Regions from separate parts of the Homo sapiens genome. Here all the other regions are linked to region 1. The links come from fine-mapping of genetic effects on gene expression. A gene starts in region 1. Each other region holds a variant in brackets. All regions are shown on one strand. Distances are between the middles of the regions.

The links.
Region 2: its variant is fine-mapped to the expression of HCN2 in esophagus mucosa (GTEx, PIP above 0.99).
Region 3: its variant is fine-mapped to the expression of HCN2 in whole blood (INTERVAL, PIP above 0.99).
Region 4: its variant is fine-mapped to the expression of HCN2 in whole blood (TOPMed, PIP above 0.99). The same link has a PIP of 0.9 or more in T cells.

What each region holds. Positions count from the first base shown.
Region 1 is chr19:588,258-593,238 of GRCh38, forward strand. It overlaps HCN2 (hyperpolarization activated cyclic nucleotide gated potassium and sodium channel 2), which reads left to right and starts at 1,624. Exons shown (of 8, transcript NM_001194.4): 1 at 1,624-2,320. The coding sequence starts at 1,689. It also overlaps the pseudogene LOC100420586. RefSeq lists an enhancer at 1-393.
Region 2 is chr19:614,153-619,262 of GRCh38, forward strand. HCN2 (hyperpolarization activated cyclic nucleotide gated potassium and sodium channel 2) reads left to right here. Exons shown (of 8, transcript NM_001194.4): 8 at 1,643-3,007. The coding sequence ends at 2,322. It overlaps POLRMT (RNA polymerase mitochondrial), which reads right to left. Exons shown (of 21, transcript NM_005035.4): 14 at 5,058-5,110; 15 at 4,845-4,958; 16 at 4,553-4,608; 17 at 4,336-4,434; 18 at 3,625-3,697; 19 at 3,418-3,503; 20 at 3,267-3,328; 21 at 3,069-3,171. The coding sequence ends at 3,122. Among named protein-coding and RNA genes, the nearest start is that of POLRMT, 17 kb to the right of the region's middle. The variant G/A (reference allele first, on the strand shown) is at 3,462.
Region 3 is chr19:649,000-654,961 of GRCh38, forward strand. RNF126 (ring finger protein 126) reads right to left here. Exons shown (of 9, transcript NM_194460.3): 2 at 3,827-3,885; 3 at 3,234-3,297; 4 at 2,612-2,856; 5 at 1,235-1,297; 6 at 680-749. Among named protein-coding and RNA genes, the nearest start is that of RNF126, 11 kb to the right of the region's middle. The variant C/T (reference allele first, on the strand shown) is at 2,853.
Region 4 is chr19:607,610-613,571 of GRCh38, forward strand. HCN2 (hyperpolarization activated cyclic nucleotide gated potassium and sodium channel 2) reads left to right here. Exons shown (of 8, transcript NM_001194.4): 4 at 355-573; 5 at 2,650-2,796; 6 at 5,639-5,879. It overlaps LOC107987266 (a long non-coding RNA gene), which reads right to left and starts at 5,864. Exons shown (of 2, transcript XR_001753828.2): 1 at 5,270-5,864; 2 at 2,331-3,545. RefSeq lists an enhancer at 3,301-3,610 and a silencer at 5,730-5,911. The variant A/G (reference allele first, on the strand shown) is at 3,120.

The DNA.
Region 1 (4,981 bases):
TGCCGGCGCCTGCAGGAGGCGTCTTTCTGCTTCTCCCACTGCCAGGCATGGGCGGTTCTCGTGCCGTGCGGGTCCCGCCTCCTCCCTGCTCCCAGCCGCGAGCCCTGGGGCTCTGGCGACCTGCCCGGCCTGACATCTTCCCAGGGTGAACATAAAAGAACCCCCTTCAGCTGGAGCACGCATCTGCCTCGGGGCGGGCCACAGCCTGGCACTGCCAACTGTGCCGCCCGCCCGGCCTCTCCCGCACCACCTTGGGACAAACAGCTGTCCTGCCCGCCTATGCGGAGGTGGCCGGCGGGGCCGGCGTGGGGGCGCAGGGATCCCCAGGGTGTGGGGCAGCCAGGCCGAGGCGAGAGACACGGTCGGGCTCAGCCCATCCACTGTCAGCCGGGCACATGCTGGCCCTCCCTCAAGTACCACTGAGTGCCTCCTGGGTGTAGGAAGAGGGCCATCTCTGCCCCGGTGGCCTCGAGGTGCAGATGGGTGGGGGGCACCCGGCACACGGGACATCGTGGCTGAGAGGACGTCAGGCCAGGTGCCAGGAGGGTCCCAGGAGGGCCTCCTGCCTCCAGGTGGGGATGTTCAGCCTCCACTTCTTCGAGTGTGACTGTCTGTCTCCTCTCTCTCACTTGCCAGCTTCCTCACCTGCCCCCTCCCGGCTGTCTGGTGGGCTGGGTGGCTAGGGACAGAGGCCTCATGTCACCTGGCACCAAGCAGCACCCACGCCCAGCCGGCTTCGGCCCAGAAGCAGAGCCTTGGGAAGCACCTGTCTCAGAGCTGGGGACTGGAGGCACTGGGGGCACAGCTGCACCCGGAGTCCGAGGGGTCGGGGAAAGGAGGCAACCCCGGGGCAGGGGGCTCTGGTACCCGTGCGAAGGCGCTAGTGGGCTTTGGGTCTCCCTGTGACCCCAATCTAAAGCCCACCAGACCTAGAGGAGACCCCCGCCGCACGGCTCCCCAGGGCACTGTTTGAGGGGTGGGTGGGAACCCCACACCCTCGGGTGGCTTTTCCAGTTTTCCTTGTCTGGCTGGGCTTGGCCTCAGTTTCCTCAAATGCAGACCAGGGAGAGGAGTGCCTGAGTCTCCCAGAACGGCGCCCAAGCCGGCCTGCCCCTCCCCACGCACTCAAGGGTCTCTGTCCAGGGCCCACAGGCGACCCAGCAAGGGCTCCTGTGACCTTTAGAAACACCCTTTCGTCGTGGAAGTCTTCAAACCTCACAGAAAGCAAGGAGGCGCTGGCCGTGGCGGCCTCTCCCGTCTCCCAGGCCCGCGTCCACCCTCCCCGCGCCGGTGCCCTCCGGACAGAGGTGGAAGCCGCGGCGCAGGAGAGGCGGCTCCGGCCGGGCAGCGGGGCCCGGTGACCTTGGGCGCGTCCTTACACGTCGCGGGCCTCAGTTTCCCCTCCTGGGGAGAGGCCCGCGCGGGGCTCCGAGGCCTCGGGCCGCGTGACCTTGGGGCGCCCCCGACCCCGCGGCCCGAGTTTCCCGGCGCCGAGCGGAGGCGGCGCGCGGGGAGGGGGCGCAGCCGAGGCGGGTCTCCCGCCCCCGCCCCTCCCCCGCCCCTCCCCCGCCGCGAGGCTCCGCCCCCCGCGGCTCCGCCCCGCCCCGCCCCCGCCTCCCCCCTCCCTCGGGCTCCGGCCGGCGGCGGCGGCGGCGGCTCCGCTCCGCACTGCCCGGCGCCGCCTCGCCATGGACGCGCGCGGGGGCGGCGGGCGGCCCGGGGAGAGCCCGGGCGCGACCCCCGCGCCGGGGCCGCCGCCGCCGCCGCCGCCCGCGCCCCCCCAACAGCAGCCGCCGCCGCCGCCGCCGCCCGCGCCCCCCCCGGGCCCCGGGCCCGCGCCCCCCCAGCACCCGCCCCGGGCCGAGGCGTTGCCCCCGGAGGCGGCGGATGAGGGCGGCCCGCGGGGCCGGCTCCGCAGCCGCGACAGCTCGTGCGGCCGCCCCGGCACCCCGGGCGCGGCGAGCACGGCCAAGGGCAGCCCGAACGGCGAGTGCGGGCGCGGCGAGCCGCAGTGCAGCCCCGCGGGGCCCGAGGGCCCGGCGCGGGGGCCCAAGGTGTCGTTCTCGTGCCGCGGGGCGGCCTCGGGGCCCGCGCCGGGGCCGGGGCCGGCGGAGGAGGCGGGCAGCGAGGAGGCGGGCCCGGCGGGGGAGCCGCGCGGCAGCCAGGCCAGCTTCATGCAGCGCCAGTTCGGCGCGCTCCTGCAGCCGGGCGTCAACAAGTTCTCGCTGCGGATGTTCGGCAGCCAGAAGGCCGTGGAGCGCGAGCAGGAGCGCGTCAAGTCGGCGGGGGCCTGGATCATCCACCCGTACAGCGACTTCAGGTACCGCCTCCGGGAGGGCCGGTCGGCGCGAGGGGGCCCGGGGAGCCGGGCGCGCGGGGAGCCGTCCTTGGAGCGCCTGGGGAGGGCGGGGCGGCGCGCCGGGCCGGTGACCTCGGGGCTCCTCGGTGACCTCGGGCGTGTCCGGGACCCGCCCCGGAGTGACCCCGGCGCGCGAGGCTCCGCCTCTGGGGGGGCTCCCCGGGTGACCGCGGAGCGCCCCCCTCCCACGCACCCCGACATCCTCCGCCCTGCGGCGCGGCGGGTGGGGTGGGCCGCAGGGCCAGGGTCTGAGCGCAGAGGGGCAGAGAGGACGAATAGAGGGGAACGTGGGCCCCAGAGAGGCGGCGGAGCGGGAGGGAGGAGGAACGAAGGGCGCCCGGGAAGGACGCGCCCCAGGGAGGCCGGGGGAGAGGGGGTTAAGCGGCTCCCACGGCGTCCACCCGCGCCCCGCCTGCGAGGAGGCGCGCCCGGGGCCGCGGGCCTGGAAAGCGTGCGGGTCCCCAGGCTGTGTCCCCGGGAGCCGCTCCACCCGAGCCGCGGGCGGTGCGCGCATGCGGCGGTGGGTGTGTAGACGCCGCTGTGGATCCAGCCGGCTAATGCGTGGAAGGCTCGGAGCAGGGCCGGCGCGGGGCCACCGCCACTGATGTTTGCGGTCGTGGTTCCTGGGCTGTGCGTGCTGTGGCCGGAGAGCGAGACCGGCGCGTGTCCCCGTGGGCTGTGTGTGAACAGGGGCCCGTGACCGCGGCGGGGTTCCCGGGGCGCGAGCCTGTGGCCGGAGAGGTGTGTCTCCAGGAGTGTGTTTGCGTGGTGGTCGCGGGCGTGTGCGCCTCCGGTGGGTTTATTTTGGTGGGACGTGTGGTTTGTGTGTGTTGGGACCAGGTGGCGGGCGTGCGCGTGTACGCCCGGGGCCGGTGTGCACCGGTGGGCAGTAGTGTGAGCCGCAGGCAGGTCTCACACACGCGACCATGGAGGGATGCGTGTGTGTTTGTGTATCCACGAGTGGGGTGTGAGGTGGGGTGTGGAGGGTGCAGGTGGAGGGTGTAGGTGGGGCCCGCCGGGCTAGCGAGGCCGGGCGCGCGGGACGGGCGCGGTTTCAGCACCACGGACAGCGCGCCGGACCTGGGAAGCCTGCGGTTTTCCCGCCTGTCTCTCCTCCTCCAGGCCTGGGCGCCCCAGGACAGCCCCCACGGACCCTGGACCCCCGGAACTGGGCAGGGAGGCTGTGGGGTTCTCTCTTCCCCTGGATTCTCTGCACCCCTAGTGCTTGACTGGAGAAACTGAGGCCTGGGGCACATGCGTCCTGGACAGAGCCTGGAGGAAGGCCCTGGAATCCTCCTCCCACCCCAGGCCTTCCTGAGAGGTGAATACAGCTTTGACCAGAAGCCTGGATTTCGAGACAGGCCAGGGGTGGGAGGAGCCCCGAAATCCCCAGAGGGGCTGTGTCCGGCCCCTCCCACCCTGCCTCTGTGCCCCACCGGGAGAGCTTGGTCAGCATCTGGGCTCTGGCCTGCGAAATGTGGACAGTGAGCGGGAAGGACTGGACTTCCAGGGCTGCTGGTCGGCCTGGCCCCACTTCCAGTCGGGCAGTGGCACCCCCTGACCGGAGAGGGACGCGGTGGAGAGGGAGCTGTAGAACGTGCCCACTCCCCTCCGTCCCCTCCAGCATGACCTTCGACAGAGATGGGTGCACCGCAGCGTGGGGGCTGGCAGGTGGAGGCCCACACCAGCCACTCCCTCCCCTGGGCAGCTCCAGCGACCCCCTGGCTGCAGAGGGGCGGTCGGTGGCCTGGGGGGCAGGTGGGCAGATGGCTGATCCCGGGGCTTGGGGGGAAGGCCGGTGGTAGGAGTGAAGCCCTCTCATCCTTCCACCCTCCTTGGGCGTGGTCGCCTGGAGGCCTGGGCAGGCTGTGGCCCCGCTCTGTGCTCTGAGGCATAGAGGGCTCAGAGGCCCCTGTGTGGACCAAGTGCAGCCCCACCCCGGCAGATGAGTGTTGAAGTGGAACTGAGCAGGCAGGGAATGGGGTTAGCGGGGCCTGTCTTCGGGACTAGGGGAGTCACGGCAGTCAGATTTTAAAAAAGGATTTCGATGTTGCCAAGCTGGGTGCACGGGGCCCCTAGGACCCTCCCCAGGCTTGGGACCTGTGCCAGTGTGGAATCAGTGTGGAAAAAGACCCCCAAGAATATCTCAAAAGCTCCCTAAGCAGGCGGCCGGACCCTGCTGTGGAGGGTGTTTTGGGGCAGCCCACAGCAAGCGAAGGGGCCTCTACGTTTGCAGCTGACTCAGGAGCCTGGCCCCAACTGGCTTCGGGCCCAAGGCCTCCTGTGCCTGGCTGGGTGTCTTGGGTCCTCGCTGGGCCCCTCTGCCTCAGTTTCCCCAATTGCACGGTGGGGATGGTATGAGGGAGAAGGATGGGGTCTTTCACAGCCTTGCCAGTGTCTCAGCCTCACGTCTCACACTCTCTTCACCTCCCCTTCCTGCTGAGAGAGTGCTGTGCTCCTTGCCCAGCCTGTGCCCCCCAGGCACGCCCTCACCCCGGTTCTTCCTCGCTGCCCAGCTGTCTCCGCCACGCCCAAGTCCACCCTGCTCCCGTGCTCGGAAGTGGCCTCTTTCACGCCCCACGTCCCAGTCCCAGTATACAGCAGGTGCCACATATTTGCTGA
Region 2 (5,110 bases), 26 kb after region 1:
CGTGGCCAAGGCATCAGGAGTGTGGCCATGGCAGCAGGGGCGTGGCTGGGGCAGGGGCAGCGGCTGGCCGCTCCTAGGACCCCTTTGGGTCTAGAGGCTGATTTTCTGACCTATTGTCCTACTTCAGCCAGAGGCAGCCTGTTTCCCAAGGGAGGGAATGCACAGGGTGTTTGCGGTTGTGCCGAATGCTCGGTGAGCACCTGCTGTGTGCTGGGGGTGCAGGGGACAGACCCGGGGGCCCACTCAGACTCCCAGGGAGGCTTATGGACTGGTGATGAAATCACACACGACTGGGCTGTGTGCCAGCAGGGCAGGTGGGGCCGGTGGGCTTCCCTGAGTTGGGAATGCAGAGTGGAGACCAGGGTAAGGGATGCCATGTGGAAACGGGGAGGAAGATGTGTTCGTGGAGTGGACACAGCACATCCCAAGGCCCTGAGGTGGAAAAGAGGCCTAGAGTCCAGAGAGCCAGGGAGGCCTGGAGGAGGTTGGGGAAGAAGGGGAGGCCAGACACACAGGGCCCAGTGGGCGGCAGGGAGAGTTTAGACTAAATCAGGAGCATCAGGGAGCCATGGAGGGTTCTAGGTGGGCGGAGGACCTGGTCAGATTGTATCCGCCAAGGCGGGCCGTGTCCAGGAGGGAGACGGTGACCTGGCCTCTCAGGGGGGCAGTCTCTGGGGCAGGGAGGGGCAGAGCCCTGATGACTGGATGTAGGCGCCAGAGAGATGGCGGCTCATGCTGCTGTTCGTGGGAATGGGAATGAAGACCATGGCTGAAACGCAGGACAGGTGCGACGGAGTGGTGTCAGGGAGCTCCCTGGTGTACAGTAGGAAGCTCTCCACAACTTGCTCTATACAGTGAGTATGCAACCCGTTCCTGAGTATCAGGTGCTTAGGTTATAACTTCTGTATACAGCAGGTGCTCAGCACAGGCTGTGTACAGGCAGGTGTTTTCGGTATGCCTGTGGCACACTGGAGGCAGTCATTACATAATCAGCGTATACAGGTGGTACACATGCATACTTGGTGCACAGTGATACCTGCTCCATGTACACAGCAGGCATTAAATACCTGTTTACTGCCAGGCGCGGTGGCTCACGCCTGTAGTCCCAGCACTTTCGGAGGCCAAGGTGGGTGGATCACGAGGTCAGGAGATTGAGACCATCCTGGCTAACATGGTGAAACCCCGTCTCTACTAAAAAAAAAATACAAAAAATTAGCCGGGTGTGGTGGCGGGCGCCTGTAGTCCCAGCTACTCGGGAGGATGAGGCAGGAGAATGGTGTGAACCCGGGAGGTGGACCTTGCAGTGGGCCGAGATCGCGCCACTGCACTCCAGCCCGGGCGACAGAGCAAGACTCCGTCTCAGAAACAAAGCAAAACAAAAGCCCTGCTTTCTGTATGCAGGTGCTTCATGCATGCTGGCTGTGCATAGCAGGTGCTCAGCCTGTATATGGCAGGTACTCAATATCCATACTATAGGCCAGAGATGCTACATATGTGCTTATTGTATACAGTAGGTGGTAAATGCATGCTTGCTCTACACGGCAAGCACTGTGTGCGCACCCGCGGTGCAGAGTAGGTGCTCGGTGCCCGCTGTACGCAGCAGGCGCTCCCTGTGCACACGCTAACGCCCCCTCTCCCGCAGGCAAGAAGAATTCCATCCTCCTGCACAAGGTGCAGCATGACCTCAACTCGGGCGTATTCAACAACCAGGAGAACGCCATCATCCAGGAGATCGTCAAGTACGACCGCGAGATGGTGCAGCAGGCCGAGCTGGGTCAGCGCGTGGGCCTCTTCCCGCCGCCGCCGCCGCCGCCGCAGGTCACCTCGGCCATCGCCACGCTGCAGCAGGCGGCGGCCATGAGCTTCTGCCCGCAGGTGGCGCGGCCGCTCGTGGGGCCGCTGGCGCTCGGCTCGCCGCGCCTCGTGCGCCGCCCGCCCCCGGGGCCCGCACCTGCCGCCGCCTCACCCGGGCCCCCGCCCCCCGCCAGCCCCCCGGGCGCGCCCGCCAGCCCCCGGGCACCGCGGACCTCGCCCTACGGCGGCCTGCCCGCCGCCCCCCTTGCTGGGCCCGCCCTGCCCGCGCGCCGCCTGAGCCGCGCGTCGCGCCCACTGTCCGCCTCGCAGCCCTCGCTGCCTCACGGCGCCCCCGGCCCCGCGGCCTCCACACGCCCGGCCAGCAGCTCCACACCGCGCTTGGGGCCCACGCCCGCTGCCCGGGCCGCCGCGCCCAGCCCGGACCGCAGGGACTCGGCCTCACCCGGCGCCGCCGGCGGCCTGGACCCCCAGGACTCCGCGCGCTCGCGCCTCTCGTCCAACTTGTGACCCTCGCCGACCGCCCCGCGGGCCCAGGCGGGCCGGGGGCGGGGCCGTCATCCAGACCAAAGCCATGCCATTGCGCTGCCCCGGCCGCCAGTCCGCCCAGAAGCCATAGACGAGACGTAGGTAGCCGTAGTTGGACGGACGGGCAGGGCCGGCGGGGCAGCCCCCTCCGCGCCCCCGGCCGTCCCCCCTCATCGCCCCGCGCCCACCCCCATCGCCCCTGCCCCCGGCGGCGGCCTCGCGTGCGAGGGGGCTCCCTTCACCTCGGTGCCTCAGTTCCCCCAGCTGTAAGACAGGGACGGGGCGGCCCAGTGGCTGAGAGGAGCCGGCTGTGGAGCCCCGCCCGCCCCCCACCCTCTAGGTGGCCCCCGTCCGAGGAGGATCGTTTTCTAAGTGCAATACTTGGCCCGCCGGCTTCCCGCTGCCCCCATCGCGCTCACGCAATAACCGGCCCGGCCCCCGTCCGCGCGCGTCCCCCGGTGACCTCGGGGAGCAGCACCCCGCCTCCCTCCAGCACTGGCACCGAGAGGCAGGCCTGGCTGCGCAGGGCGCGGGGGGGAGGCTGGGGTCCCGCCGCCGTGATGAATGTACTGACGAGCCGAGGCAGCAGTGCCCCCACCGTGGCCCCCCACGCCCCATTAACCCCCACACCCCCATTCCGCGCAATAAACGACAGCATTGGCGCCAAGCCTGGCCGCGTGTGATTGCCCGAGACCCGCAGGGCGTGCACCCTTCCTGAAGACAGTGGCTCCTGGGGGTGGCAAAAGAGCTTTATTTACACACTGACAAGGCTCACGGGGTGTCAGCTGAAGAAGTAGGTGGAACGCTTCACCTGCTCCAGGTCGAAGGCCCCTGCGGAGGAAGCAGAGCGGACGGCGTGGGTGGCGGGAAAGCCCCGCCCTGGCCCGCAGTTCGAGCCACCCTTGCGAGGCTGCCCACCCGCCTACCTGGCTTGGGCACCGCCTGCAGTGTCTCCTTCAGCTGGCTGGCCTCCAAGATCTTCTGGGGCCTGGGGTTGGAAGCAGGGTGGGGTGAGGCTGAGGCCAGGTTTTGGGGTGGGGGGGGAATCCAGGTAGTTGGGGTCAGGGAGCGCCTTACTCAGAGCAGAACCGCTTGACCAGGAATCTGGACAGGTCCTGCAG[G/A]ATGGGCTCGCTGTGCAAGCGGACAAACTGCTCCCGGCACACCTGGGCAGGAGTCAGAGGATCCCCAGGGGTGATCAGGCAGGCTCTGGGCACCACCCCTACCCAACGCCCCAGTGTGGGGGCCCCACCCATGGGTGGACTGAGGCTCAGACTACGGGGGCACCTGGTTCATGACGGAGACATCAGCTGCGTGAGTCCAGTAACAGTCGTGCACAGAGACGAAGGTCAGGCCCTTCCTGTGGCAGAGCGGAGGACTCCTGAAGGGAGGGGAGCTCACAGGGCCACCCAGTGACCAGCATCCTGGCCCTGCGCTCAGCCCCCTCCACTTGAGGTCCAGGGAAGCCCACCCTCCTGCAGGCCTCGCCCCACCCCTCGCCCCGCCCCTCCCCAAACATCCTGGGTTAGGTATCAGTACAGGGGGAGGAAATGTTCCCAGAAGCCTCCTCGCCCCACCCCTGCCGCCCCCCACGCTGCTGTGGGAGCCTCAGCTCCGAGGGCGGCTACGAGGTCCCCTCCTGCCAGGGCCACCACCCCGCATCCTGAGCATTCCCAGCTCCCGTGGCCGGTAGATTCTGCTGGAACGACCTCCACGTGCTCCAGATCTAACCACACATCGCGGTGCCAAGAAATGCCCAGCAGGAAGGGGCAGCGCCCATGCTCGGCTCTCCCTGTCGGGCCACAGGAGGGGAGCTGCCAGGACCACCTACATTCGGGGCACACAGCCTCAGGGCCTCTACACAGGCCCCACAGACACAGCAGATCCACTCTGCCCAGTCCCTGCCCCCAGCTAGACCCAGCCTTGCCAGCTGTGCCCTGCTAGCCAGAAGACGCCCCTGGGAGGCGAGCGGCACCCACGCCGTCCGGAGACGCCCACCTGTAGCAGTGCAGGGCGGTGAGCATCATGTGGGAGGAGTCCAGCGAGTGGATGAAGTTGGGCGGGAAGCCGTTCTTCTGCTTACGTGTGTTGGGCTTTCTGAGGACGGAACAGGTGCCGGTGGGGGCGGCCCAGGGACACCCCTAACTGGCCGCTGTCTCCACCGTGGCTGCTCTCCAGACCCCCGGCCAGGCCCCAGCCCGGGCCCCCCACTCACCGGCTGATGTCTCCGTTGTGGGTGTAGGTGATGCTCTGAATTCCACCTCCTATTTGCTAAAAAGGGGAAGGGGCCGGTGAGTCCCACCCGAGGCCCAGCACGGTGGTGGTACATTGAGGTGGTGGTACACTGGGGTAGTGGCACGCTAGGATGGTGGCACACTGGCGCGGGATGGGGTGGCACACTGGGGCGGTGGTACACTGGGGTGGTGGTACGCTGGGGCACTGGTACACTGGGACGCTGTTACACTGGGATGGTGGCACACTGGGGAGGGATGGGGTGGTACACTGACCTTGACCTTGGAGTCCAGGCGATAGGGCTGGATGACGGGGACGCCCAGGGGTGTGACCCACTCCACCACAGAGCCCATGTGGGAGATGAGGCGGGCACTCTCGGTCAGCCAGTGCTGTGGGACACAGGCCGTCTCAGGGCAGGGGGCTCAGGCCGGGGATCCCGTCCACTTGCTTAGGGAGTCCTGGCCGAGCGGGGACAGGACAGGACGTACCTGGATGGCCCGGGTCCCCGAGAACATCTCCTGTAGACTCTTGAAGACCTGGC
Region 3 (5,962 bases), 61 kb after region 1:
CGGGAGCTCCTCGGGGGCCCGGCCCGGGGCTCTGAAACGCGAGGCTGCAGGACCTGCAAAAGCACCGAGGCCGCGTTTGTCCTGGGCCCTGGGCCCCTTGGAGCCCGCCCGGGGTCGGAGATCACTGTGGAGCCCACGCGGCCCCCCCGCTCCTGGGTCCCCTGACGGTGGAATGGGGGAATGGGCGGAGGCCCGCGCTCCTGGGTCCCTGACAGCGGAATGGGGGGGGGGGCCGCGCTCCTGAGTGCCCTGACGGCGGAATGGGGGGGCCGTGCTCCGGCTGGTGGGCTACTGTGAGGGTCGGGTCCTGCCAGTGACAAAATGCTCCAAGGGCTCCTCAGCAAGGCTGAGACGGGTGGCACTTGGAAGCAGGTCAGGGCGCGACCTCTCGGGAAGAGGGACCGCGTGGCCTCCTGACCATGTGACTGTGGGCGAGTCCTCCCCGCGGTTTTGCTACAACGTTCCGCGTGAACACAGGAGAACCCCCAAAGTTGCCAAGACTCAGAAATGGCAGGAGGAAGGCCGGAGCTGCCCCCTGTGCCCGCCAGAGCGTGGAGGCTGTGCCCGCATCCCCTTTGACCTTTGTGGGGCTTCGTGGGTCCAGGCAGTGGGGCAGCTCCCAGGGGTGGGCAGCCCAGCCCTCCCCCAGCAGGCACTCTGGGCCGTGGCCACGCTGTACCTGTGTGATGATGGCATCCAGGCCGTTGGCCCCCCAGGCGTAGTCCATAGGGTTTGAGTGCAGGACTCCCCTGGAGGTGGAAGGTGGGGTTCAAGTGGCTGACGGGCAGCTGGGGCAGGTGCGTCTATCCACCCCACTCACCAGGGGCCCAGGCTGGGGATGGGGACAGGCACCCCCTCCTACTCACCAGGGACCCTGGCTGGGGATGGGGACAGGCACCCCCACCCACTCACCAGGGGCCCAGGCTGGGGATGGGAACAGGCACCCCCTCCTACTCACCAGGGACCCTGGCTGGGGATGGGGACAGGCACCCCCACCCACTCACCAGGGGCCCAGGCTGGGGATGGGGACAGGCACCCCCACCCACTCACCAGGGGCCCAGGCTGGGGATGGGGACAGGCACCCCCTCCTACTCACCAGGGGCCCAGGCTGGGGATGGGGACAGGCACCCCCTCCTACTCACCAGGGACCCTGGCTGGGGATGGGGACAGGCACCCCCACCCACTCACCAGGGACCCAGGCTGGGGATGGGGACAGGCACCCCCACCCACTCACCAGGGGCCCAGGCTGGGGATGGTGGCGGGCGTGATGATGCCGTTGACGAGCTGCTGGATGATCCTGGAAAAGAGAGCGCCAGTCACGGGGTGAGGCCGCCCCACGCACAGGAGAGGCGCCAGGCCTGCCAGGTCCGTGGTGAGCACCAAGGGCAGGGCCAGCATCAGCTTCTAGATTAGCTTCTATTTATTTATTTTACTATGAGCCAGGGTCTCACTCTAATGCCGAGGCAGGAGAGAAGCAGCTTGATCTTGGTTCACTGCAGCCCCAACCTGCTGGGCTTAAGCGATCCTCCCGCCTCAGCCTCCCAAGTAGCTGGGACCACAGAAGAGGTCCACCACTCTCGGCTACTTTTTTTTTTTTTTTTTTTTTTTTTGAGACAGAGTTTCACTCTTGTTGCCCAGGCTGGAGTGCAATGGCACGACCTCGGCTGACTGCAACCTCTGCCTCCCGGGTTCAAGTGATTCTCCTGCCTCAGCCTCCTGAGTAGCTGGGATTACAGGCGCCCACCGCCATGCCTGGCTAATTTTTGTATTCTTAGTAGAGACGGAGTTTCATCATATTGGTCAGGCTGGTCTCAAACTCCTGACCTCAGTGATCTGCCCGCCTCGGCCTCCCAAAGTGCTAGGATTACAGGTGTGAGCCACCTCACCCAGCCTCAGCTACTTTTTAAAAATTAGAGATGGGGCCTCCCTACATTGCTCAGGCTGGTCTTAAACTCCTGTCCTCAAGAGATCCTCCCTCTTTGACCTCCCAGAGAACTGCAAATACAGCACTGAGCCACCGTGCCTGGCAAAATTAGCCACTTTTAAAGATGACATTTCCAGCAGGTGAGACACACAACCATAAAAGCATCAACCGCCAGGAGTAGGGCCCTGCGACGGCTCCCCCAGGCTCTGTTCCACCAGGAGCAGGGCCCAGCGACGGCTCCCCCAGGCTCTGTTCCACCAGGAATGGGGCCCTGCGACGGCTCCCCCAGGCTCCGTTCCACCAGGAGTGGGGCCCTGCGACGGCTCCCCCAGGCTCCGTTCCACCAGGAGTGGGGCCCTGCGACGGCTCCCCCAGGCTCTGTTCTGGGCCCAAGGCCTGGACAGCGTTTGACGACACGCGTGTGGACAGCAGTCTCCAGAGCACGTGGGCCTGGCAGGCACACGGTGCCCCACTCTGTGGTCAACCCACACACCCTGAACCGGCATACTTCTGTCTCCGAAGGGCCGTGTGGGGAGTCACAGGGGGCTGGAGGGCCTGGCCGGGCGGCCTCTCCAGAGAGCCTATGGATGATGCCACGTTTCCGTGGAACCCGTGCTGGATTCTAAGCGCCAGAACTTCCGACCTCAAGGCGTGGGGCCCTCGCGGCCACCCCCGGGGCCCCCTCACCCTTCCAGCGTGGGGACGCCTTCGTGCCGGCCGGTGGCCCGCCGCGTGGTGAGGCGGGCGCGGGGCTGTCGGGCGCCGTACCGGTGCCGGGACGGATGGTCTCTCTCCCGCCGGCTCTCAGGGTCCCTGCCGTCGTCAGCCTGCGCCCCAGGAGGGAACGTGGGGATCTCGAAGCTGTCATCGAAGATGCCGAAAGCAAACTGTCCGTAGCCCTGCGGCAGCGTGAACAGGTGCTGGTCCA[C/T]GTGCTGGGGAGAGGAGGGGGGCGTGACCTCGGGGGCTCAGGCCCGTGCAGTCTGCTGGGGGCGCTAGGGCACAAAGACAAAGGAGAAAGCAAGACGGGCCCTGCTGGGTGCCGGGTGGGAGGGAGACGCAGACAGGGAGGCAGGAATTGGGCAGAGCCTGCCCCGCTGGTGTGAGATGCCTCGGTGGAAGTTTCGCTTTCATCCAAGAAACCAACCAAGCAGCGTGGGCCGCCCCAATCCCTGGCCCGGGCCCCTGGAGGGAAAAATTTCCTCCGCCGTGCGGGCAGGGAGAGCCGGGGAGGCGAGGTGGGGACAGGCTGGCGCTCGGGGCCCCGAGCAAGGCTGACACGATCGGGAAGCACGAGGGGCGGGCGACTCACCTCCAACGGTGGCCGGCTCTGGTCTGTGGGAGCTGTGGAGGGGGCAGAACCATTTTCTGTGCTCCTGGGGAGAGAGTGCAGGTCAGCAGTGCCGGCTACCCTGTGCCCCCATGCGCCAGGCGCTCCCTCCCCTCAAAAGCCTATGTTGGGAGAGCAGGAATTGTCCTTGGCACTGCTTCCCACCCGCCACCGCCCCAGCATTTGGTGCCGTAACCCGCTGCTGCTTCCCTCGCCAGTAAACCACGGGTTTCTCGATAAACCGGTGCAGACCCCAACAGCCTCCTAAGCGTGAGAATGTGGGTAGGGCCCCCGTGGCCCCTTCCCCGGAGGGCCTGGGTCACCAGATTAGCCGCCGAGGCTGAGGGAGGTGAGCGGCTGCACAGGTTGCCGGCACTCCCCTCTGGCCCCGGCCCGGCCATCACAGAAGAGAACGGCACGCTGCTGTCTGCACAGAGAAAAGTGCTCCCGGAGCCACAGACACCAGGGCCTGACGGCCCCACACTCGGCGGGGCGGACGCCAGCACAGCCCACACCCCTACAACAGCTGAGGCCCGGCTGGCTCTTCCAGCCTCTTCAACAGGGGGCTGCATTACCTGGTCTCTTCCGGAAGCTCCTCGATAAAACCAGACTCGCATCTTGGACAGATATAATCCTGCAGGAGAGAACAGGAGGCCGGGTCACGGTGACGCCGGCATCACCTGCAAACCCCCCCAAGTGTGAGGACAGAGGGGCTCCGGACCCAGCGGTCTCTGGCTGGCCAGGCACACGCAGGCCAGGGTGGCTCCCAACCCGTGGGTCCTGGAGGGCGGCCGAGGGGACCTGGCCTCTGCCAGCCACCCGCTGACCCTTTGGTGGCTCCCGGCGATCTGAGCCCCTCCGACCTGGCCCCACCGTGACGGGCGTCACCAGCGTCATCAGCGCCTTGGCTGAGCCCCTCCGACCTGCCCCACCGTGACGGGCGTCACCAGTGCCTGGGCACCTCCTCACACAGGTGGCACCACTCGGAGGGGTGCCCCAATACCCCACAGTGGCATTTCCAGGACGCTCTGGCAGCCCCGCACACAGCCCGTTCCCCTGGCTCGGGGGAGGCCACGTCCACGCTGGCCACACCCCTGCAAGACCCCATCCCCAGGTCCCCCTAGAGCCAAGGACAACACAAGGCCAACATGGTGATGTCCCAGAGGAGACGTGAGGACCCTGCCCAGGGACAGCCGTGGGTGAGTCCCAAAACCACGTTCACAGTTCCCCAGCACCAGCCTCAAGCCACAGCTGTGCCGAGCAGGACGGATGCCATCCCCTGTGGATCTCACACTGCAACGGGATCCCCAGGGCTGAAGGGCCTGCTGGAGACACTGGCTCACAGGGCGGACTCCTCATGGATGGCTGGGCCCCTGGTGATGGCGGAGCGTGCCGAGCATTCGTGGGGCCTGGGCTGAAACGTGCATGGTGCCTCCCGGCCTCACCAGGGGCTGGGCAGATGCCGACACACACTTCCCGCACAGCCTGCAGAACTGGAAACTGGAAGCTAAATCAACTGCTCTCTATGAACGACCCAGTCTCAAGTGCTCCATCGCAGCAACGTGAAAATGGCCTCACACGGCACGTGTCATCACGCCAGGGGCTCACATGGGGGTCCCAAGACCACCCCCAGGTAACACAGACAAAAACAGGAGACAAGGCTCCCACCGTGCATGGGGGAGTGCTGTGAGGGGAGCCAAGGTCGACCCCAGGCTCTGGGGATGCAGGTTGCACCGGGGCTGTTCAGTCTTCGCAGGGGCAGGGGCTGGGACCTCTCCAGCAAGCAAGATCCCGGCCTCACCCACTGACTCTGGGGAGAAGCGGGGGTCTGGCGTGCAGTGCCCAAGGGGAGGGCCGACAGCTGGGCCCCCGCCCACACCACGCCGTGCCTGCCTCACCTGCTCCTGCCACTGAAGCACAGGCTGGGTGGGGAGGGACTAAGGCCAGGGTGAGCAAACGATGCCAGATGCACATGAACCCACCGTGAGGGGAGAGTGAAGAGGCACCATCTACAATATAGAAAAAGTGCGGCCCGGCTCCTGGTGAGGCCGGGAGGCACCACATGCGTTTCAGCCCACGCCCCACGAATTCTCGGCACGCTCCGCCATCACCGGGGGCGCGGTGGCTCAGGCCTGTAATCCTGGCACTTCGGGAGGCCGAGGCGGGCGGATCATCTGAGATCAGGAGTTGGAGACCAGCCTGGCCAACATGGTGAAACTCTGTCTCTACTAAAAATACAAAAATTAGCCGGGTGTGGTGGCGGGCGCCTGTAATCCCAGCTACTTGGGAGGCTGAGGCAGGAGAATTGCTTGAGCCCGGGAGGCGGAGGTTGCAGTGAGCTGAGATTGTGCCATTGCACTGCAGCCTGGGCGAGGGAGCAAGACTCCGTCTCAAAAAAAAAAAAAAAAAAAAAAAAAAAAAAAAAAAAAGTGCTGGCCGGGCGCGGTGTCTCATACCTGTAATCCTGGCACTTTGGGAGGCCGAGGCAGGCGAATCACCTGAGGCCAGGAGTTCGAGACCAGCCTGGACAACATGGAGAAACCCCGTCTCTACTAAAAATACAAATGTTAGCCAGGCGTGGTGGCACGTACCTGTAATCCCAGCTACTCAGGAGGCTGAGACAGGAGAATCGCTTGAACCTAGGAGGCGGAGGCTGCAACGAGCCGAGATCATGACATTGTAACTCCAGCCTGGGCGACAGAGTGAGACTC
Region 4 (5,962 bases), 20 kb after region 1:
GCCCCTCTGCTCTGGCCCAGATGCTCCCTGGAACTTTTGCCCCCTCTTGACCTCACAGATGCTCTGATCTCAGAGGCTGCAAAAGGCGGGACCCAGACTCTCGCCCTTGGGGTCTCAGTTTCCCCAGGAGTGAAGCGGGCAGGTAGAATCAGCCCTGGCCCTCCTGCCAACTCACTGTGACAAGTGTGCAAACCATGTCATCTACCTGGGTCTCCATTTCTCTTGGTTACCTCTGAACATGGGGAGCTCACCACCTCCAGTGCTTGGCAGAGGGTGGGCGCTGGGCCCTTGAGGACCGAGGGCTCCTGGGGCGTGAGCACCTGCCCACCACCGCCCCTCCTGCTGGCCTTGCAGAACCACTCGTGGAGTGAACTGTACTCCTTCGCACTCTTCAAGGCCATGAGCCACATGCTGTGCATCGGGTACGGCCGGCAGGCGCCCGAGAGCATGACGGACATCTGGCTGACCATGCTCAGCATGATTGTGGGTGCCACCTGCTACGCCATGTTCATCGGCCACGCCACTGCCCTCATCCAGTCGCTGGACTCCTCGCGGCGCCAGTACCAGGAGAAGGTCTGAGGGAGGCGGGCCCCGGCCTGGGTTCTGATGGGGGAGGCGGGCCTGGATCTGGGGTCTGAGAGAGAGTCAGGCCAGGCCCTGGGGTCTGATGGAGGGAGGCAGGCCCGGTCCTGGGGTCTGAGGCTGGAGGGAGGCCTTGCCCTGGGGTCTGAGGGCGGAGGTAGTCCTTGTCCCGGGGTCTGAGGGGAGGGGCGGGCCCGGCCCCGGGGTCTGAGGGGAGAGGCAGTCTCAGCCCTTCACTCAGCTTCAAGTGGCGCGCTCAGGGCAGAGACCGCGTGATGGGGAGCAGGGGACCCTGGGGGTCTGTGGCTGTGATTAGGAGGAGAAACGGCCGGTGGTGAGAGGTTCTCTGACCCTGTGACAGGGAGGGAGGTCCAGAGCCTGGAGATGGACGTGGGGCGGGGGCTGGGGAGGGGATGCAGGCTGGGCAGGAAGGGGTGAGTTGGGATCAGGGCAGGACAGGGTCAGTCTTTGGACATCGGGAAGCCCCCGGGCTGAAGGGGCATTGCCAGGAGGCTGGGCCCACCTGGGGGTCTCTAGGCCGGCTCAGGATGGGGCTGGGTTAGGGAAGGGCCTGGCGGGGTCTGAGAGGCCTGGGGTTGCTTCAGGACACGCCGGTGGCCGGCAGTCAGGGCCAGGCTTCAGGGAGAGCAAGGCTGCCCCACTGCTCAGATGCGGCCTCTGGCCTGCAGCGTCCATTGGGTTAATCCTAGGCTTGGCAGTGGAGGGGACACGGGGGAGCTGGGAGGGGTGGAGGGAGATTAGGATTGGCCCCATTGGCAGCCCCTGGAGTTGGGCCTCATGCACCACTCTGTGCCTCAGTTTCCCCATGTTAGGCGGCTGGCTGGTCCTGGCTGGGAGCCAAGTGCCCCCCTCTCCCGCGCCCCGAGCAGTGGCTGGCTGGGTCAGCTGGGCCCCGTGCCAGGCGCCCTGCTGTCCGGAAGCCACGGGCCTCACACCCAAACATAAGCTGGTGCCACCACCCGCCCGCCGTCACGGGTTCCGCTGAGCTCAGGGCAGCTGCGGCCGGGCGGGGCTGGGGCGGAAGTGAGGCTGGAGCTGCCGGGGGGCACCGTCCTGGGGACAGCAGGGCCTGGCACCCCCGCCCAGCACCCACGCTCCCTTCCCTGCTCAGGAGGGGCTGACCCGATGGTTTCTGGAAAGATCATCAGGGAAGGGCCAGAGCCCCCGGGAAGGGGGTCCTGTGTGTCAGGGTACCTGGGGCCTCTCCTCGTAGAGTCAGGTGCCCACCCATTCCTCAGGGATAGGGTTGCTAGATAAAGTTCAGGGCACCCGGCCTGGTGCAGTGGCTCCTGCCTGTAATCCCGGCACTCTGGGAGGCCGAGACAGGCCGATCGCCTGAGGTCAGGAGTTTAAGACCAGCCTGAGCAACACGGCGAGACCTCATCGCTACAAAAAATTAAAAAATTAGCAGGGCAGGGTGGTGCACACCTGTAATCCCCACTACTCAGGAGGCCGAGGTGGGAGGATCCCTTGAGCCCAGGAGTTCAAGACCAGCCTGTGCAATATGGCGAGACCTCATCTCCACAAAAAATAAAAGAATCAGCCAGGCGTGGTGGCGCACACCTGCAGTCCCTGCTACTCAGGAGGCTGAGGTGGGAGGATTGCTTGAGCCCATAGGCGGAGGCTGCAGTGAGCTGTGATTGCACCACTGCACTCCAGCGTGGGCCACAGAGCGAGACAGTGTCTCAGAAAAAAAAAATGGAATTTATCATTGAAACGAATTCAACTTTGATTTAAATAGAAGCATGTTTATTTGCTCTTGTTGAATCTGGCCGCCCCTGTGTGTGGCGGAGGCCTGTCTCCCCGCTGTGGGCGGGGGCTTTGTCTGACCCAGCCCTGACCCCCCACAGTACAAGCAGGTGTGAAGGCCTATCTCCCCGCCACAGGCCGGGGGGCTGTCTGACCCACAAGCAGGTGCCCGTGTGCCCGCTGCAGGCTGGGGGCGGTGTCTGACCCAGCCTCGCCTCCCCACAGTACAAGCAGGTGCCCCTGTGCCCGCTGCAGGCCGGGGGCGGTGTCTGACCCAGCCTCGCCTCCTCCCCACAGTACAAGCAGGTGGAGCAGTACATGTCCTTCCACAAGCTGCCAGCTGACTTCCGCCAGAAGATCCACGACTACTATGAGCACCGTTACCAGGGCAAGATGTTTGACGAGGACAGCATCCTGGGCGAGCTCAACGGGCCCCTGCGGGAGGTGAGGCGGGCGCCGGGCGGGCGGGAGGCAGCCTCCGGTACAGGGCCGGCCTCCCTCTCCTGGAGCCCAGGAGCCGGTCCCTGAGGGAGGCGAGGTGCCTAGGCTGCAGCAGGAGGGACTCGAGCTAGACCTGCGTACACACCCTCCCCTCCCCGCCCCGTGAGCCTCTGCACCCCCAGGACCCCCGCCACCCCCGCCTTGCTTCCCGCTGCCCCCTTAGCAGAACTGCCTGGGTCTGTGCCTGACAGGGCGGGGCAGAAGCAGGGCAGGGGGTGGGGAGGGAGGAGCCGCAGAGGCCCCGCTGAGCACCAGGTCCTGGGGGC[A/G]CTGAGGCTGATTGGAGCGGGTTTAACTCCCAGCTCTGTTCCGGTAGCCTGAGTGACCCTGGGCAAGTTTCCCAGGGTTGCGGGAACAAATACCCACAGGCTGAGTGGCTTGAACAGCGGAGATTCGGCCTCCCACCGTCCTGGAGGCCGGAAGCCCAACATCAAGGCGTGGGCCGGGCCGTGCTACCCCCCCGGAGCCCCTGGGGAGGATCCTTCCTGCCTCTTCCGGCGTCTGGGGCTCCAGGCGCCCTTGGCTTGCAGATTGATCTCCCTGATCTCTGCCTCCATCTGCTCACAGCCTTCTCCCCTGTGTGTCTCTGTCTCTTCTTGTAAATTCATCCGTCGTTGGATCAGGGCCCACCCGGTTCCTCGTGGCCTCGCCTTAACTGGGCCATGTCTGCAGAGACCCTATTTCCACATAAGGTCCTATTCACAGGAACCGGGGGTCAGGATGTCAGCCTGTCTTTCTGGGAGATGTAGTTCAACCCACAACACACATCAAACAGTTATTGAGCGCCGACTGCGTGCCCTGCCGTGTGCTTGAAGGTCCCACCCTCAGGAAGCGGGGCCTAGGGATGGCGGCCGTGATCACGCAGGCAGCAGAGAGCAGCTCTGGGAAGCGGGGAGGGACGAGGACGGGGAGGCGACATCAGCAAGGCCGTGTGTGAGCCAGGCAGGGTGTCCCCGGTGTAGCACCTGGCTCGGGCAGAGGCCCCGAGGAGGGGCTGGAGGAGCTGGGCGAGGAGGCGGGCAGGACGGGCCTGACACTAGGGACCTCGGGCCCCGGGAATGCCTCTGGGGGGGCGTGTACACCCGTTGCTCCCAGGAGGCACACACTGCGGTTCGCTTCGCCAAGAATGTTTAATTGCATTTGATGACTACGGTTTCCATTCATTCATTTGTAGAGATATAACACTCAGACCACAAAATGCATAAAATGCGGTGGCTTTTAGTATTAACAGAGTGCTGCACCCGATACCACAGCCTCACTCCAGAACATTCTCATGGGCCCAAAAGGAGACCTGGGGTGTTAGTCACCAGCTCACTCCCCGTCCCCAGCCCCTGGCAACCCACGCTACTTAGTCATTATTTAGGTGTTTAGGAGTTGCAAAGTCAAATCTTTAAACCCACATATGGCCAGGCGTGGTGGCTCACGCCTGTAATCCCAGCACTTTCAGAGGCCGAGACGGGCAGATCACCTGAGGTCAGGAGTTCGAGACCAGCCTGGCCAACATGGTGAAGCCCCGTCTCCACTAAAAATACAAAATTAGCCGGGCGTGGTGGTGGGCGCCTGTAATCCCAGCTACTCTGGAGGCTGAGACAGGAGAATCGCTTGAACCCAGGAGGCGGCGGTTGCAGTGAGCCGAGATTGTGCCACTGCACTCCAGCCTGGACAACAGAGCGAGACTCCGTCTCAAAAAAAAAAAAAGTACCAAAAAGTGCCCCAGGTCATAAGGGCACAGCTCGATAGCTGGTCCCTAAAGGGAACGTGGTGTAACCACCACACAGAACGAAGCTGGAACGTTCCTGCCGTCCTTAGAAGCTGCCTTTGCTAAGGGGAATTGCCCTGACTTCCCACACCATTGATTCATCTCCAGACCCTTGGTTTTCATGTTGATTTTTCAAAAATCACCTGATAGTCTGACCGAATGTAGCTTTCCACTGGTGTGTGTGTGTGTGTGTGTGTGTGTGTGTGTGTGAGAGAGAGATGGAGTCTCGCTCTGTCACCCGGGCTCCAGTGCAGTTGTGTGATCTTGGTTCACTGTAACCTCCTCCTCCCGGGTTCAAGAGACTCGTGCCTCAGCCTCCCGAGTAGCTGGGATTACAGGCACCCGCCACCACACCCAGCTAATTTTTTGTATTTTTAGTAGAGATGGGGTTTCACCATGTTGGCCAGGCTGGTCTCGAACTCCTGACATCAGGCGATCCACCCACCTTGGCCTCCCAGAGTGCTGGGATTACAGGTGTGAGCCACCACGCCCGGCCTTATTTTTCCCCCATTTTCTTTTTTTTTTTTTTTGAGTCAGGGTCTTGTTCTGCGCTCAGGCTGGAGGGCAGTGGTGTGGGGATCACGGCTCACTGCAGCCTCGACTTCCTGCACCACCACGCCTGGCTGTTTTTTTTTTTTCCGGTAGAGACGGGGGTCTTACCGTGTTGCCCAGGCTGGTCTAGAACTCCTGGGCTCAAGCGATCCTCCCGCCTCGGCCTCCGCAAATGCTGAGATCACACGCGTGAGCCCCCGCACCCGGCCTCCTTTCCACCGCTCTTGTCTACAGCCGCCCCTCCTGGTCCGATTGTATTGGCAGATGTCGCCAATACGGTGTCAAACGGCGAAGGGGCACTGAGCGTTTTTTCTTTCTCCCGTCCTTGGCGGCAGCAGCTCGGTTCCGGCTACGGGGCTGAGCCCGTCTCTCAGACGAGGAAACTGGGGTCCGAGAGGTGAGCCGGTCCCAGAGGCAGGGCGAGGGGGAAGCGGGAGTGGGGTCCGCAGCGGACCCAGCCCTGCCTCCCCCCTGCAGGAGATCGTCAACTTCAACTGCCGGAAGCTGGTGGCCTCCATGCCGCTGTTCGCCAACGCCGACCCCAACTTCGTCACGGCCATGCTGACCAAGCTCAAGTTCGAGGTCTTCCAGCCGGGTGACTACATCATCCGCGAAGGCACCATCGGGAAGAAGATGTACTTCATCCAGCACGGCGTGGTCAGCGTGCTCACTAAGGGCAACAAGGAGATGAAGCTGTCCGATGGCTCCTACTTCGGGGGTGAGCTTGAGGGGGGCGCGCCTGGAGGGGGAGGGGGCACGCGACCCCCGCGGTGTGCAGAGCCAGGGGGCCGGGGCCGGGGC